Linked DNA regions of Homo sapiens: region 1 is linked to region 2. The links come from fine-mapping of genetic effects on gene expression. A gene starts in region 2. The other region holds a variant in brackets. All regions are shown on one strand. Distances are from middle to middle. Region 1 overlaps UBAP1 (ubiquitin associated protein 1). Region 2 holds the start of NUDT2 (nudix hydrolase 2).

The links. PIP is the estimated chance that this variant, and not a neighbour inherited with it, causes the effect.
Region 1: its variant is fine-mapped to the expression of NUDT2 in monocytes (Fairfax 2014, PIP 0.95).

What each region holds. Positions count from the first base shown.
Region 1 is chr9:34,202,983-34,210,982 of GRCh38, reverse strand. All of the region lies in intron 1 of UBAP1 (ubiquitin associated protein 1), which reads right to left. It also overlaps the pseudogene RNA5SP282. Among named protein-coding and RNA genes, the nearest start is that of UBAP1, 28 kb to the right of the region's middle. The variant G/AG (reference allele first, on the strand shown) is at 3,935.
Region 2 is chr9:34,325,421-34,333,948 of GRCh38, reverse strand. It overlaps NUDT2 (nudix hydrolase 2), which reads right to left and starts at 4,380. Exons shown (of 5, transcript NM_001161.5): 1 at 4,350-4,380. It overlaps KIF24 (kinesin family member 24), which reads left to right and starts at 4,681. Exons shown (of 13, transcript NM_194313.4): 1 at 4,681-4,843. RefSeq lists enhancers at 4,435-4,624, 4,160-4,667, 4,755-4,854, 4,955-5,014.

The sequences.
Region 1 (8,000 bases), 120 kb after region 2:
CCCCTATACCACATATAAAGTAATCTCAAATGATTCTTATTATAAAAATTAACAAAAGATACTTTTATATACTGCCTGACATGCAGAAAGAGCTCCACAAAGGTTGACAAATTATTCAAACCAGCAACGATGTGTTTAAAGAAAAAAAAAGGTTGGTGAATTAAATATAACTTTCAAAAAGGCAAAACATTTCCAACCACTCTACCAGTAAACTAGTATACCTATAGAAAACATGTAAAAAAAAAAAATTTTTTTTTTTTTTAAAGATGGAGTCTCCCTCTGTCACTCAGGCTGGAGTGTGGTGACACAATCTCGGCTCACTGCAACCCTCTGCCTCCCAGGTTCAAGCAATCCTCCTGCCTCAGCCTCCCAGGTAGCTGGTACTACAGGCACACACCACCATGCCCAGCTAATTTTTTTGTATTTAGTAGAGATGGGTTTTTGCCATGTTGGCCAGGCTGGTCTCAAACTCCTGACCTCAGGTGATCCACCCATCTTGGCCTCCCAAAGTGCTGAGATTACAGGTGTGAGCCACCGCACCTGGCCAGAAAACGTAAATTTTTATTTGAACAGAATAGTATTAGAATATTTTTTTGTGTTAGTTAAGAACGTAACTGTGAAGACTGAATTCAATTTGTGAGGCCTTGCTTTCAGTCAGGTTAAGTCTGAGAATTAGCAAGAGACACTACTTTCAGGATCTATCACTGTCCACAAGCTCTGTGTTTGCAAAACTTAGCCCCCTTATTACTGTCCGCTGCACATCGGCGTACTTGGCTGAAAATGGAAGGCCAACAAGAGGTCACAGTACCCTGATTCATACTGAGGAACATTTCAATAGCTCCAGTAAGCTTTTCTTTATGCATCAATTTCTTTTAATTCAGCTGGAATAAAATACTGGTTCAGATTTTCCTAAGCACCCGTTTTATCGCAAATTAAAAAAGAAAATTGGAGTCACTAGCGTATAGAAACAAGATTTAATAGGCCCTGACATTGTGGAAAAGAGAGAAGTATGTTTATGTGGATATGGAAACAAATAAGGATAAGATATTTTTATAATGGTGGGATCACAAATTTAGCCTTTTGGTTTTTCCTTTTGTGCTGTTTTCCAGGTTTCCTGTACTGAGCATAGATGCATACATTTATCTATGATCAACACACACATACTTTGTAATTGGGGGAAAAAAACTGGTATGCAACAAGCACCTATAAGAGGATTAAAAGGAAATACAATAATATGTAATTCAACAGAGCGCTGGAAAAAACACAAACAAAAAAAAAAATAGGTAACTAATGAAAGATAACGACTTCAGAGAGAGAAAAAAGAACAAAGAATAAATCAGTGGTTTCTAGACCAGTAAGCATACAAATGACTCTAGGTTATAGACTTCATGGAGTACGTAACAGGTGTTTTACTTTATTAACAATAAAGAGTGCAAACCATTGTGTTTTACTTTATTAACAATAAAGAGTGCAAACCACTGAATATCAATACTGAATTGCCCCAAATAACATAGCATTACCACTCAAAAGGCAAAAATGATAGGAAACAAAAACTAGGCAGAAATAGATAACAAATCTAATTTAGCTCTAATCTAGATTTAATTTATATTGTTAGATCAAAAGCATCTTGAAAGCAGGACACACTTTTTAAAATACCCAAAGAACATGTTACAAAACTTGTGTAAATATTAGGACACAAAGAAAACCATGATAAATTTCCAAAATCAGAAGTAGCTGAGTCAGGCCAGGCGTGGTGGCTCACGCCTGTAATCCCAGCACTTTGGGAGGCGGCCAAGGCAGGCAGATCACTTGAGGTCAGGAGTTTGAGACCAGCCTGGCCAACATGGTGAAACTCCATCTCTACTAAAAATACAAAAAATATTAGCCAGGTCTCATGGCATATGCCTGTAATCCCAGCTACACGGGAGGCTGAGGCAGGAGAATGGCTTGAACCCAGGAAGCGGAGGTTGCGGTGAGCCGAGATCACGCCACTGCACTCCAGCCTGAGCAACAGAGTGAGACTCCACCTCAAAAAATAGAACTAAAATACGAAGCTGAGTTAATAACCAGCTTGATCTCGGCTCACTCCATCCAGGCTTGAGCCTCCACCATCCAGGCTCAAGCAATTCTCCCGCCTCAGCCTCCCGAGTAGCTGGGATTACAGGTACCCACCACCACACCCAGCTAATTTTTTTTTTTTTTTTTGAGACAGAGTCTCACTCTGTCGCCCAGGCTGGAGTGCAGTGGTGCCATCTCGGCTCACTGCAAACTCCGCCTCCCAGGTTCACGCCATTGACCTGCCTCAGCCTCCCAAGTAGCTGGGACTACAGGCGCCCGCCACCACGTCCGGCTAATTTTTTTGTATTTTTAGTAGAGACGGGATTTCACTGTGTTAACCAGGATGGTCTCAATCTCCTGACCTCATGATCTGCCCGCCTCGGCCTCCCAAAGTGCTGGGATTACAGGCGTGAGCCACCGCGCCCGGCTAATTTTTTTATTTTTAGTAGAGACAGGGTTTCACCATGGTGGCTAGGATGGTCTCGAACTCCTGACCTCAGGTGATCTGCCTGCCTCGGCCTCCCAAAGTGCTGGGATTACAGGCATAAGCCACTGTGCCCGGCCTCCAGTGGGATTTTAATGGATCCAAAATATAGAAAAGTGTCTAATTTGTATTTACAAAATGAGTATAATATTGGTGCCAAAAAACTTCGGAAAAATTGAATATATAAATACAGATATGAAAATCCTTGATTAAAAAAAAAAGTAACAACCAAAATTACCAGTACATTTTAGGAATAAACCATGTCCAAGTGAGATTTTTTGCATAAATACAGTCCAACACCAACATTAACAATTCTGCTGATATAATTCAGCATTAATGCTCAAAGAAGAAAAATCATATGGCTATCTCCTTTACATGAGTTTTAAAAAACAAAAAACTAATACCAAATACCAGATTATGCTGACTAGTGGGGAGACTACAGAAGTATTCCCACGAAGGACAGCAACAAGACAAAGATATCCATTATTATCACAATTGCTTAGCATTGTTATTTCATATTAGATGGGAGAAATAAAAAGCATAAAAACTCAGATAAGAAACTTTCCCAGGAAAACCCAAAAACTGACAAGAGAATACGATAAACTATTTCTGGATACAAAATTAATATTCTGAAACAAATTAATACTCTGAAACAGCCTTCATATATACATGGCCAGATAATAAATATAATGTGCTGAAACAAGAGAACTGCTTAAGCCCAGGAGTTCGAGTCCAGCCTGGGCAACATTGCAAGATCCCATCTCTTTAAAAAAAAAAAAGAAATAAATAAAAAGAAATATAAGAGAAACACACAACATACCAATATACCACAGCAGTTAAGAACTAGGAATAAACTGAAGACATAAAGGGAGAAAACTAAACCTGTACTGAAAGACACAAAAGAAAACTTAGACAATTAGAAAAACATACAATACTCTTGAGCGGGATATTCAACATTATTAAGATCAATTCTAAGTTGCTATACAAATTTGCCATGATGCAAATGAAAACTGAAGTACCATGTTTTTCTTTCTTTTTTTTTTTTTTTAATTAGACAAGCTGATTCTAAAGTTCATGTAGAAATAACAATTAAGCGGCCAGGCGTGGTGACCCACACCTGTAATCCCAGCACTTTGGGAGGCTGAGGTGGGTAGATCACCTAAGGTCAGGAGTTTGAGACCAGCCTGGCCAACATGGTGAAACCCCATCTCTACTAAAAATACAAAAATTAGCTGTGGCGGGAGCCCGTAATCCTAACCCACTCCAGAGGCTGAGGCAGGAGAATCACTTAAACCTGGGAGGCAGAGGTTGCAGTGAGCTGAGCTCACACCATTGCACTCCAGCCTGGGCGACAAGAGCAAAATTCCATCTCAAAAAAAAAAAAAAAAAAAA[G/AG]AAATAACAATTAAGCAAACGCAGAAAAAAAAGAAAAAATCTCCGAAGAAAATGGAGACTAGCCTATCAGATATTAAAATATTAGAAGATACAATACTGAAAGCTGTGTCGTACTGGTACAAATACAGATTAGTGGAACAAAGTAGAAATCCCTAAAAATACCCAAAATATAAACATTTGGTATATAATAAAGCTGCTTTTTAAAATCAAGTCATGGGACAACTGGGTAGTCACCTAGAAAAAAGCAGAATCCGATGCTTGCTTCACACTGCATACCAAGATAAATTCCAGATGGATCAAAGGTATAGTAACATTATGCAACTGACCAAATGTAGAAATACTATTTTCACTCTACACATACAGCTAGCGAGCCAAAATAACCTAAGTTTCTAAGACTTCAAATTTAAGAAAATACCTGGCTTATGAAAAACTCGGAAAATGAAGGGTTTTGGTTTGTTTTTTTTTTAAGTCAAGATGCTGTAATACATAAGTTTTGTCACTAACTGATTTTAGTCTTACTTTTTTCTTTTCTTTTTTTTGAGACAGGGTCTCACTCTGTCACCCATGCTGGAATGCAGTGGCACAATCTTGACTCACTGCAGCCTCAACCTCCCGAGCTCAAGTGATCCTCCCACCTCAGCCTCCTGAGTAGCTGGGACCACAGGCACCCAACACCATGCTCGGCTAATTTTTTGTAGAGATGGGATTTTGCCGTTTGGCTCAGGCTTAGTCTTATTTTTCAAATGAGGTTTTACCAAAGTTATTAATTGTAAGGTATCCTTAAGGCTTATAAGCAAAGCAATTAGTGTCTACAACCAAACCACCCTGAACGCTCCTGATCTTGTCTGATCTCAGAAGCAGGGTTGAGCCTGGTTAGTACTTGGAAGGGAGAAACACAACTAGTGACTGAATACAAAGCTCATTTCAAATAGTTTAATAAAAACAGATTACAGTTGAAAAGCAACTCCCTAAAAATTACAAAGTGACAAATAAGTACATAAACTAGTACTGTAAACGCAAATTATTGACCCAAACTGTTTTTTGTTTGTTTGTTTTTTGAGACGGAGTCTCGCTCTGTCACCAGGCTGGAGTGCAGTGGCACGATCTTGGCTCACTGAAACCTCCACCTCCGGGGTTCATGCCATTCTCCTGTCTCAGCCTCCTGAGTAGCTGGGACTACAGGTGCCCGCCACCACACCTGGCTAATTTTTGTATTTTTAGTAGAGACGGGGTTTCACCATGTTGGCCAGGCTGGTCTCAATCTCTTGACCTCGTGATCCTCCCGCCTCAGCCTCCCAAAGTGCTGAGATTACAGACATGAGCCACCACGTCCTGCCAACCCAATCTGATTTCTTAAGATCTGCAGCTAATTCCAAAATGGGTCAATAAAATCCAGACAAAGATTTCCCTTAGCTCTGGTCTCCTCTTAATCCTCCAAGCATCTAGTACAGTGTCTAATCTTTAGCAGGAGTGGCTTTTCACTTACTCTCTCCCTTCAAACTTTCTGAAAATTTAATAGCTAATTGTACAACTAATAATTATACCTAACATGTAATTTCAGAATACAACTAGACAAAACAATATCTTTAAAATGAAAAAGCTAAAACAATAATCTCTTGTAGTTACCAATAAAAAGTCTGAAATTATAAGTCTTGTGAGACTACCATAATGGAAGAACAGGAAAGTAATGACTAGTTAAAAATCAGAATGGGAGTCATGACTTCAAAGCATTAGCCAGGGCTGGGTGTGACTGCTCAGGCCTGTAATCCCAGCACTTTGGGAGACTGGAAGATCACTTGAGCCCAGGAGTTCAAGACTAGCCTGAGCAACATAGTGACAACCTGTCTCTACAAAAAATACAAAAACTGGCCAGGTGTGGTGGCACACACCTGTAGTCCCAGCTACTCAGGAGGTTGAGGCAGGGGACCACCTGAGCCTGGGGAGGTCGAAGCTGCAGTGAACAGTGATGGCGCCACTGCACTCCAGCCTGCACTCTCACTCTGGGTAACAGAGTGAGAACTTGTCTCAAAAAAAATAAAAATTAAAGCATTAGCCAATCAGAAATTTCAAGTCAGCATCTTAACCAATTCATTACAATTTATTTAAAGTATTTTCTTCAGAGAGTTCAGTGCAGTGTCCTCAAGAGGAAATCTGACCACGAACCTATCAATTTAATTCTTGCAACTGAATAAAGACTGGTTGGCAAAAAAATAATGTCAACAAGTTATTGAACCAAAAATATAATTTCCTTCCCAACTCCAAAAATCATATCACAATTCATACCAGAAGGCAAGAAAGACAAGAGCACCTGAGGCAATTAAAAGACTTGTAGAATGGGTAAAAACCTCTGAAATTTAAAAAAAAAGAACTTTTAGGGCTTCTTCCATAAAACAAGACTACTACTGGAGTAAATGATCTCTGGAATTCTTTCCAGAATTAAAGGACTAGAGATAGATTATTTTCTAACTATGAATTTCACTGGTTTTTCTAGTCTTATACATATTAAAAAGATAGCACAAGACTTCATCTTAATTCTGAGGGCACATAAAAACAAACGGGTGTTTTCTTCAAAAAAAAAAATGGGTGTGGACTGTGTATACTTACTTGACTCAGAAAGACAAGTATACTTGACTCAGCAAGTATATACAATCCACACCCTTTTTTTGTTTTTTATAAGAAAATCCTTACTATTTGATACTATTTTCCTCTACAAGTAACTAATACAATACTAACTGGTCAGTTTTTTGTTGTTGTTGTCTTGAGACAGAGTCTTGCTCTGTCGTCTGCACTCTGGAGTGCAGCAGCAAGATTCTTGTGCCTTAGCCTCCCGAGTAGCTGGGATTACAGGCGTGGGCCATCACACCCAGCTAATTTTTGTATTTTTAGTAGAGACAGGATTTCACCACGTTGCCTAGGCTGGTCTCAAACTCCTGACCTCAACTGATCCACCCACTGTGGCCTCCTAAAGCTCTGGGATTGCAGGCATGAACCACCACGCCCAGTCTCTTAACTGGTTAATTTTAAAACAAAAAAAAGTTATCATACTAGAAGCTATTAATTTGACCTGAAATAAGTAATTGCAAATATAATTTTTTGTTCTTCCTGGAGTCTTCAAACTCAGTGGATTGTATCATTCTGTTTCCATCATGTGAAACCTGAATGATTTTTCCCACAGAAATAATACAGCCTTGTTCACAAAACTTGAAAACTCAAATCCCCAGGGGAACACTGTAGGCCTAAAGGAAAAACAATATAAGGATGGAACAACTTCACACGGTGTCAAAGATTTATGGGGAGAGAAAAGGGGTTCTTAAGTAATTTCACATGCTTATGAAATATGTGTATGCTAAAATAAATGTCAGAACAGATGTCTTTAAAGTTCTATTAAATATTTAAGAAACAGATTATTCCTATTTTATTTAATCTATTCCAACACATAAAATGGAAACAAATATATATTTGTAGCTTATCAATTTATTCAGGATTTGTTTATTGTCTGTCTTCCCCACTTGCCTTTATGCACTACGAGGACAAATACCACTTCTGTCTCATTCACCATTACACCAAGCATAGTGCCCGGCCACAGTAGTGCTCAGTAACTCCTGCTGAATGAATGTTGCTGAATTCCAAGTTCTCGTATGAGATCAGCATAACACTGATACCAAAAACTGACAGAGAAAAGAGAAAAAAGAACCAGAAATGAAAGCATATTTAATTTTTGTTGATCCTTGTTTTTAGAGACAGGGTCTTGCTCTGAACAGCCCAGGTTGGAGTGAAGTGGCATGAACATTGCTCACTGCAGCCTCAAACTCCTGAGCCCAAAAGATCTTCCTGCCTCAGCCTCCCAAGTATCTGGGACTATAGGAATGTACCACCACACCTAGCTGATTATTTATGTTTTATCCATACATACCCAAATCCTAATTAAAATAGTAGTGAATTAAACTGCAAAATCCTGACTGTAGCAAACTTTTAGAAAAAGTGATTCAGTTTCCTTCAACACAAAAAAAGCAAGATGAAAAGAGAACCTACAGACTGAAAAAGATCTTAAGGAATACATCTCAAG
Region 2 (8,528 bases):
TCTAAAGCTCAAAACAACCTTTCAAGAGAAGCATTATTATATCTAATTTACAAGGACACTGATATTATTTCAAAAGGTTAAAATACTTGCATAAGGGCATAGCTGGCCTGTAAAGGATGGGATTTCAATCCAAGTAAGTCTAACTCCAAAGTCTATAATTTTTGTCCCTTTCATAGCTCTGTTCACCATGAAAGAGTAGGGCTTAGGACACAAATGGCCCTGAGAGAGGACAGACAAGATTTATAAAATCATTTCCAGTTTCAAAATTCCCAGTCCTTTTTTTTTTTTTTTTTTTTTTTTTTTTGACAATGTCTCTCTGTGTCATCCAGACTGGAGGGCAATGGTATGATCACAGCTCACTGCAGCCTCAAGAGCTCACTGCATCCCTTCTGGGCTCAAGGAATTTTCCTGTCTTAGCCTCCTGGGTAGCTAGGACTACAAGCAGGAGCCATCACATCTGGCTAAATTTAAAAAACACTTTTTTTGTAGAGATGGGGTCTTGCTATGCTGACCAAGCTAGTCTTGAACTCCTGGCCTTAAGTGACCTTCCCACTTTGGCCTCCCAAAGTGCTGGGATTACAGGTGCAATCTACTGTGCCTGGCCCCAAATTCCCAGTCTTTAATCTATATTCCTTTGGAGGTTAAGATGTCTAGCTGGGATCATTTCCACCAAAAAGGTTTTAGTTGGGGGGAGAGGGCCGTAGATGTTAAATCCTGGTATCCGAAGAAGACTCTGAAGGAGGGGTAAAATGTAGCCTCAGGCTCCTAATAGCACCCATCTCAAAAGGGTTTCTATGCCTCCTCTGCTCTTTTCTGGGAAGTAGGAACCTAAAACCACATGTTCCACTTAACTTAGGGCACTAGTGTCCAGAAAATTTGCCCAGACCCTCCTCCAGATGAGGAGGAAAGCCAACTGTTTGCCTGCCCACAAGCAATTCTATGTGACTGCAATTCTATGTGACTACTCCCTCACCTCCCACATCATCATCATCTTTTTTCCAATTTGCCAGTTTCTTTCTTCCCTTTTGGAGTGGACAGAAATGAGGCACCCACCCATGAGTAAAGCTCTTTCTTGTAAGAACAATAACAAATGGAAGAGAAGAAAAAAGAAAGAAATGCAAAAGAAAAGCCCCAACTACCATGAATAAATTGAGACAAAGAAAATATTCCCTCAAATGCACCTTTCCCTGGACATCTGCCACTCCATTCTTGCAGAGACGAAGCTGCTGAGTCATTTTGTTATTTTTGCTATTGGCTGAGGGAGGAAACAGGAGATTTTACCTGTAATGGCATAAATATTGGCTTCTAGGATAAGGCCAAAGTCAGACAAGGTTGGGACAAAAATCATTCTTAGTGAAGGGGATTTGTTAAGCAGCCTATTAGTGCCATCTGCTGTACAATTCTAGAAAGCTAACTCGGGGAATTTGTCTGTTGTGCGTATCCCATGCGACAGACAGTGTGAAGGATTGACAGATAGATATGAAGCTGAATACTACCAAGCACCAACTTCCTAGAGATTTACAGGCTAGTGAAAGTGGAAGACATTCCAACAGACAAGTTACAGTGTGTTTTGTGCAACGTAAGATGGAAAGGCAGCAAAGAAGCATCTTTAGGTTAACAAGGTACCCCATAAGGATTCTGATGGGTCACTAGTTTACCAGGCAGAAGGGAGGCGGATGCAAGGCACTGCCAGCAAAGGGAGGAGTGTGGGCAACACCCTCAAGCACAAAATGACATCTCATTGGTAAACAGCTTAGTTTATATTCTGTAGGCAATGAAGCCTCTGACTGGTTTTAGGCAAGGGTATAATTTGGTCAGACTGACATTTTACAAAGATATTCTAGCTGCAAGCAAGCTGGGGAACGAATTAGGACAGATTGGAGGCAGAGAGATTAACCAGTTACAAGTCTATTGCAACAGACCAGTTAACAAATGATTCCAGTTAGATCAAGGCAGAGGCTGTGAGAAAGGAAAGGAAGGGATGAATCTGAGAGATATTTCAAAGTAAAATGGACAATAGTGATATTTCATTGTCTAAGGGACAGAGAGATGTTTCATAAGCCAAGGGAAAGAGAAAGGCTTTGGTTTGAGTGCCTGGGTGGAGGAGGGGGTGCAAGTGAAGCATTTGTTTGGGACAAGTTGAATTTGAAGTGCTATAGTCTATCCATAAGATAAATGAACAGATGGGTCTAAAGTTCAGTGATCATCTCATCCTATCTCTTCATTTCCCAAGGTGGGAATTTACTTTTTTAAAATTATTTTTATTAAAACAATTTTTTTCTCCTCCCTTCTCTACCAAGACCACGGTGAAAATTTTCTATTAGAGCAAGATATTGCTCCTACCATAGGTACCTCTGCAGCTCACATTCCCTCCAATTTAGGTAAGTCAAGCTGTCCAACCTGCCCCTGCATCTGTCTGGTATTCCAAGCATTTTCATCCTCCTTTAGTCAGAAACACAGAAAAGCATGGCTGTCTATGCAGTCAGAAAGGCCTAGCTATTGAAGTTAATAGAGCAAGATACTTAGAGCAAGATACTTAACTTCCTCATTTGTAAAATGAAGTTAACACCTACTTTGCATGGTTGTTGTGGAGTTTATAAATGACATATATAGAGGGTCTGACATTATCAGAGGTACTAAATATATGAGTTACTGTTACCCGTGTGTCATAAAAGATCATCAAAAAGCTTCTCTGTTTTAAAGAAATGACTTTTCATCTTGTCTGTTAAACTGCTCAACACTGTTCACCACAGTATATATATTCCTTATAAGGTCCCACAGCATAAATTCCTTTTAATATAGAAACTAGAAAAATAATTTATCTTTTGAAGAATGGATTTGTTTCCTTATTAGTAAGAATTACCTTTTTTCCCTTAACTGACTAATTTTGGGCAAAATTGGGTACTCAGTTACAAAAAGTACACCAACGCACTGACTAGTGTATTTGCCTGTTCTTATTATAAGAATAATAGCTACCTTTTTTTTTTTGAGACGGAGTCTCCCTCTGTCGCCCAGGCTGGAGTGCAGTGGTGCGATCTCTGCTCTCTGCAAACTCCGCCTCCCGGGTTCGTGCCATTCTCCTGCCTCAGCCTCCCGAGTAGCTGGGACCACAGGCGCCCGCCACCACGCCCGGCTAATTTTTTGTGTTTTTAGTAGAGACGGGGTTTCACCGTGTCAGCCAGGATGGTCTCGATCTCCTGACCTCGTGATCCGCCCGCCTCGGCCTCCCAAAGGGCTAGGATTACAGGCGTGAGCCACCGCGCCCGGCCGCTACCATTTTTTAAGAAGTTACTACTCGCCAGGCGTTGTGTCAAGTGCTTTACCTTCATTATTTCACTTAATCTTCACAACAACCCGCTGAGGCATTACTGCCATTTTTCAGAAGAGTAGAAAGGGAACTATAGCTCAGAGATGTCTGGGTAAGTGACTCAAATGTAGGTCTGCCTGACTCCTAACATCAATGATCTTAACCTTAACTCTATAATAGCGTTTTACATTTGACAATTTGATTGCATTCAGTTTTTTTTTGTTTTGTTTTGTTTTTGAGACGGAGTCTCGCTCTGTCGCCCAGGCTGGAGTGCAGTGGCGCGACCTCCGCTCACTGCAAGCTCCGCCTCCTGGGTTCATGCCATTCTCCTGCCTCAGCCTCCCGAGTAGCAGGGACTATACGTGCCCGCCACGACGCCTGGCTAACTTTTGTATTTTGTTTAGTAGAGACGGGGTTTCACCGTGTTAGCCAGGATGGTCTCGATCTCCTGACCTCGTGATCCGCCCGCCTTGGCCTCCCAAAATGCTGGGATTACAGGCGTGAGCCACCGCACCCGGCCTGCATTGTTTACGCTGTCCCTTTTTTGTTTGTTTGTTTAAGGCGGTGGGGCTCTTGTTCGACTTTCTTTACTTCTGCTATAACTGCCACGATATTATCCATTCAATAACTGAAGCAATTAGAAAACATAAAATCTCTTTTGGAAAGCAGGCGGGGTTTAATGGGTAGCAACAAGTGAAACTGAGGCCCAGGGAGGGGAAGGTTCGGCGCCTGGGCCTCTGGGCCCTAAACCTGGACCTCTCCCGCCTCTGGGATTTGGACGACCCACCCTATCCCCACTCCGACGGGGACAAGCAAGGCTCAGAGTCAGGGAACCTCCCTTCTCCCGGTGCAGACAGGAAAACTGAGGTCCTGAGAGCGGATGGGACCTGGCCTGCCCACACCTCACTGCCAACTTAGAGGAGGGCGCATCCCTCTCGGGCCCTGCAGCGACCAGAGGTTTGCCAGAGGCAGATTCCCATCGCTCCAAGGCTCATTTCCTCCACTGAGAACTAAAATCAAGTGGGCCCTTAAGGGTACTCACCCGAAGCAGAAGGAGGTAGGAGGCGGACCTTGGACGGAAACTGAAGTACACCGGCCAATCAGAAGAGCCTGGTTACGCTTGGGCCCATCAATAGAATTCGGCAGAAGGATCTTCGACCCGCCTCAAAGGTGCGCGTCTCACACTGAAACGTCGCGAGATCTTCCCTCAAGCGGAACGATTGGCTGAAGGTCGGAAATTGAGAGTTACGCCCACGGTTTCTTCAGACCTCTGATTGGTCTTCCAGAGGAGAAGTCAACGAACGTCAACCGATTCCTTGGATGCCCATTGGTGGGCGGTGCGGGACTGGCGACGCGCGGGCCACAGCGCGGGCGTTCGAACTGGCGCTTGGCGGCGTTGCCATGGAGATGCGGCCTGGCCGCCGCCGGTGGCTCCCGGGTTGACGGGACTGTTAGGTTGCGGGCTTTGGGGCTCACTCCCGACGGCATTGTCTTCTCCTCTTCTCAGACAGGGCAGACCGAGGAGTTTGGACCGAGGTGAGAAAGGGCGGGGAGAATAGAGGAGGGGTAGGTCTGGTCCGGAACCGTGGCGCCTGCCCGCGGACACGGGTGCGCGTGACGTCGGCTGAGCGCGGGAGGAAACTGGCAGTTGTGAGGGAACCGAGAGTTGGCCCCTCTTGGCTCTTCCTAAAGTTCACCTACTTTCCTATCTTTCATCCCCATATCTCTGCCTTTTCTTCAGCAATTATCTTGAACGCCACTTCTCTCACTTTGGGAGACTAAACTCTTGAGTCCCAAAGCCTTCTTGCTTTTGAACCGATAAGCCTGACCGGCACCTCTTTTAGGGCATTTCTATTCGCCCTTGGGTTGTTTACTTCCGGGAAGCCCGTTCGCTTCCCTTTTCCCATAAAATTTTGAAGCCTTTGAGGTAAGGCAAGCATCGTTCACAATGTCTTGCACATAGTAGATTTTCAGGAAATATTTGTTGAGTTGAATTTAATTTACAAGAAATAGATTGGATTCCTCTTCATGCCCTGCCTTGTTGTCTCTCTGCTTCAGAGACGATTTTTTATTTCGAGGCTAGGGGGAGGCCACCCTAATCTTCAATGCAAAAGGACCTAAAAGTCCACACACAGTCCACAGCTGGCCTTTCTACTCTTTGTGAAAGGCTAAACTTTTTTGGATTGGTTGCTGCAACTCTTCCTGCATCTGTGGCTTTTAGCCTTGGTCTCCCAATAATTTTATTAGACTCCTTTTAGTCTTTGCTTAAAATAAACCATTCTGTTGCTGTATGCCAAGATAATTTATCTCCCTTTAGCTTCTTAGTGACCGGCAGCTATTGTCACATTTTAAGTGTGCTTTGGAAAATGTTTTAAAGCATCTTCTTTGTACTTGTATTCTACAAGTAGAGAGGCTTTGTAGTCTCTCTATTGAAGTGCATATAACAGCTGCTCAGGTGAACTCCATCTATTCATCAGGTGTCTATGATAGAATTGCGTTCCTAAGACTGTTTCGTTGTTAACTCATGGATTATATATTCACAGCCTGATTGTTGGTGTGATTGCTCCTTATATCAAATTCATAGCTCACTGGTGGCCTTAATAAAAGGAGTGAAAAAGTTCAGTACAGCAGCTATGTTCTTGTTACCCTTTTATAAAAGTTTGAAACACTACCTTATAGCTGTGACATGTAGTGGAAACCCACTACATGTGGGTTTGGCTTTGGCTCTGTCTCTGTCTCTAATTCACTGTGGGTGGCTTTGCAAGTCATTTAGTCCCTTTATTATTATTATTATTTTTTTTTTATTAGAGAAAATGTCTTGCTCTGTCACCCAGGCTGTAGTGCACTAGCATGATAATAGCTCACCGCAGCCTTGAACGCCTGAATCTAGCCCCTTTAGACCTCATTTTTTCCATCTGGAAAATCAAAGAATTGAATTAGATTAAAATTCCTGTGGCTCTACTCTCAAGTCAAGTAGTTGATGTCAGGTAGACCACACACTCTCAGCCTTCCAAAGACCATACAGACTTTTTTTTTAGCTGCTGAAAGTAGTAGTTACCATTTATTGAGTGTTCACCCCGTACAAAGCACTGTATCCAGGGCTTTATATGCATATTACATTTTTCTTAGTGTAGCACATTACTGCTAAGATAGCATTTTATTTAAAATTTGTGGTTTTATATTGTTAATGAAAATCTTTAGTTATTCAGAGTGTGTCCTTGGGGCAACCTAAGGTATGAGCCTCTCAGTTTTTAGTTTAGGGAGAACCACAGTTTCTTTCTCTGGGCTGCTCTTTTGTCGTAAAGTGAGGGGCTGAACTCTTCTAGATCCCTTCCAGATCTAGTATTCTATGATGCCTGATATATTAATCCAGTTTCCCTATGCTGGCTCAGCAAACCAGTTTATAATTTGCACAGTGTAGATCCTCAACACATTTTGTTAAATAAATAATAGAGTTCTACTTCTTAAACCTTGAGTGTATGGTCATTGTATACCTCCCAAGTTACTGTCTCAAGGGTTTTGATGTTCATATCGTGTTGAATAAGAAGAGTTTTCTGTAGGTATAAACTAATAATAATAGTATAATATATTGTTGAGTGTTTATATATCAGACACTGAATGTAGCAGTTAATTTACATTATTCTAATTAACCCTCATGAAAGGAAACATTTTTTCCAAGTCAGCATTTTTTTTTGTCAGTTCAGTGCAGTAGCTTCCTAAATGATCTCCCTGTTTCCACTTTTGCCCACCTGCTGTGATCCATTTCCTCACAGAACTGGGAGAGTGAACTTTGAAGACGAATCATAGCATATACTTTCTCCACTTAAGATCCTCTAATGACTTCCTACTTCACTTAAAAGTAAAATTCAGACACTTTTATGTGGCCCAGTACACCCTACATAATCTGGCCCCTACCTTTCTCTCCTCTTCTCATACTATTCTCCTTCTCACCTACTATGCCAGCCAACCTGTCCGTGTTTGATGGCTTGATTTTGCCATGCTCATTTCCACCTTTGGGCTAATGTGCTCACGTGGAACCCTCTTCCTCCTGATTTTTACATAAGTGACTCCATGTTATTTCAGGTTTCACCTCAAATATTCCCTTCTGAATGAAGCCTTCTCTGATCATCCAATGTAAAGTAAGCCCTGCACTGGGCTTTATTCTTCGGTAGTGATTATCATCATCTAAAACTACCGCTTATTGATTATTAATTATCTCTTCCCATTAAAATAATAGTGTCATGAGGGCAGGGACCTTATCTGTTTTTTGGGGGGTTTTCTTGAGACAGGCTCTTACTCTGTCGCCCTGTTGCCCACACTGAACTGCAGTGGTGTGATCATGGCTCACTGTAGCCTCTGACTCCCAGGCCCAAGCAATCCTCCCACCTCAGCCCCCCAAGTAGCTGGGACCACAGGCATGTACCACCATGCCCAGCTAATTTTGTTTATTTGTAGAGACAAGGCCTCACTATGTTGTCCAGGCTCATCTCAAACTCCTGGGCTCAAGCAATCCTCCCTCAGCCTCCTAAAGTGTTGGGATAACAGGCATGAGCCACTGTGCCTGGCTGACCTTGTCTGTTTTGTTCACTTATATTCCTGGTGCATAAAACAGGGCCTATCTCATACAAGTCTCTCAAAAAATATTTCTTGAAGATTGGATAAAGTTTCCTCTTGGAACTGTAACCATATCTGTGTCCATATCAATTCATTTGAGTAATACAAACTTGCATAATTTTGGTGTCCAGGAGCAGTGACTCAGGGCACCAGCATCTCTGTCACAATTTTCCTGAGTAATCAAATTACCCTGATAAATAGTTTCTACCACCCGTTACCACAAACGATATCAAATGCTTTTATAGAGTTTTAATATACTGTAGGGATATTTATTCATTAAACAATTATTGAATATTATTTCCAATCACTCTTTTATTTATTTATTTATATTTTTTTCTGAGATAGTCTTACTCTGTTGCCCAGGCTGGAGTGCAGTGGCGCAATCTTGGCTCACTGCAACCTCTTCCTCCCAGGTTCCAGCGATTCTCATGTCAGCCTCCTGAGTAGCTGGGATTACAAAGTGTGTGCCAACATTCCCAGCTAATTTCTGTATTTTTTGTGGAGATGGGGTTTCACCATGTTGACCAGGCTGGTCTCGAACTTTTGGCCTCAAGTGATCCACCCACCTCAGCCTCCCAAAGTTCTGGGATTACAGGCATGAGCCACC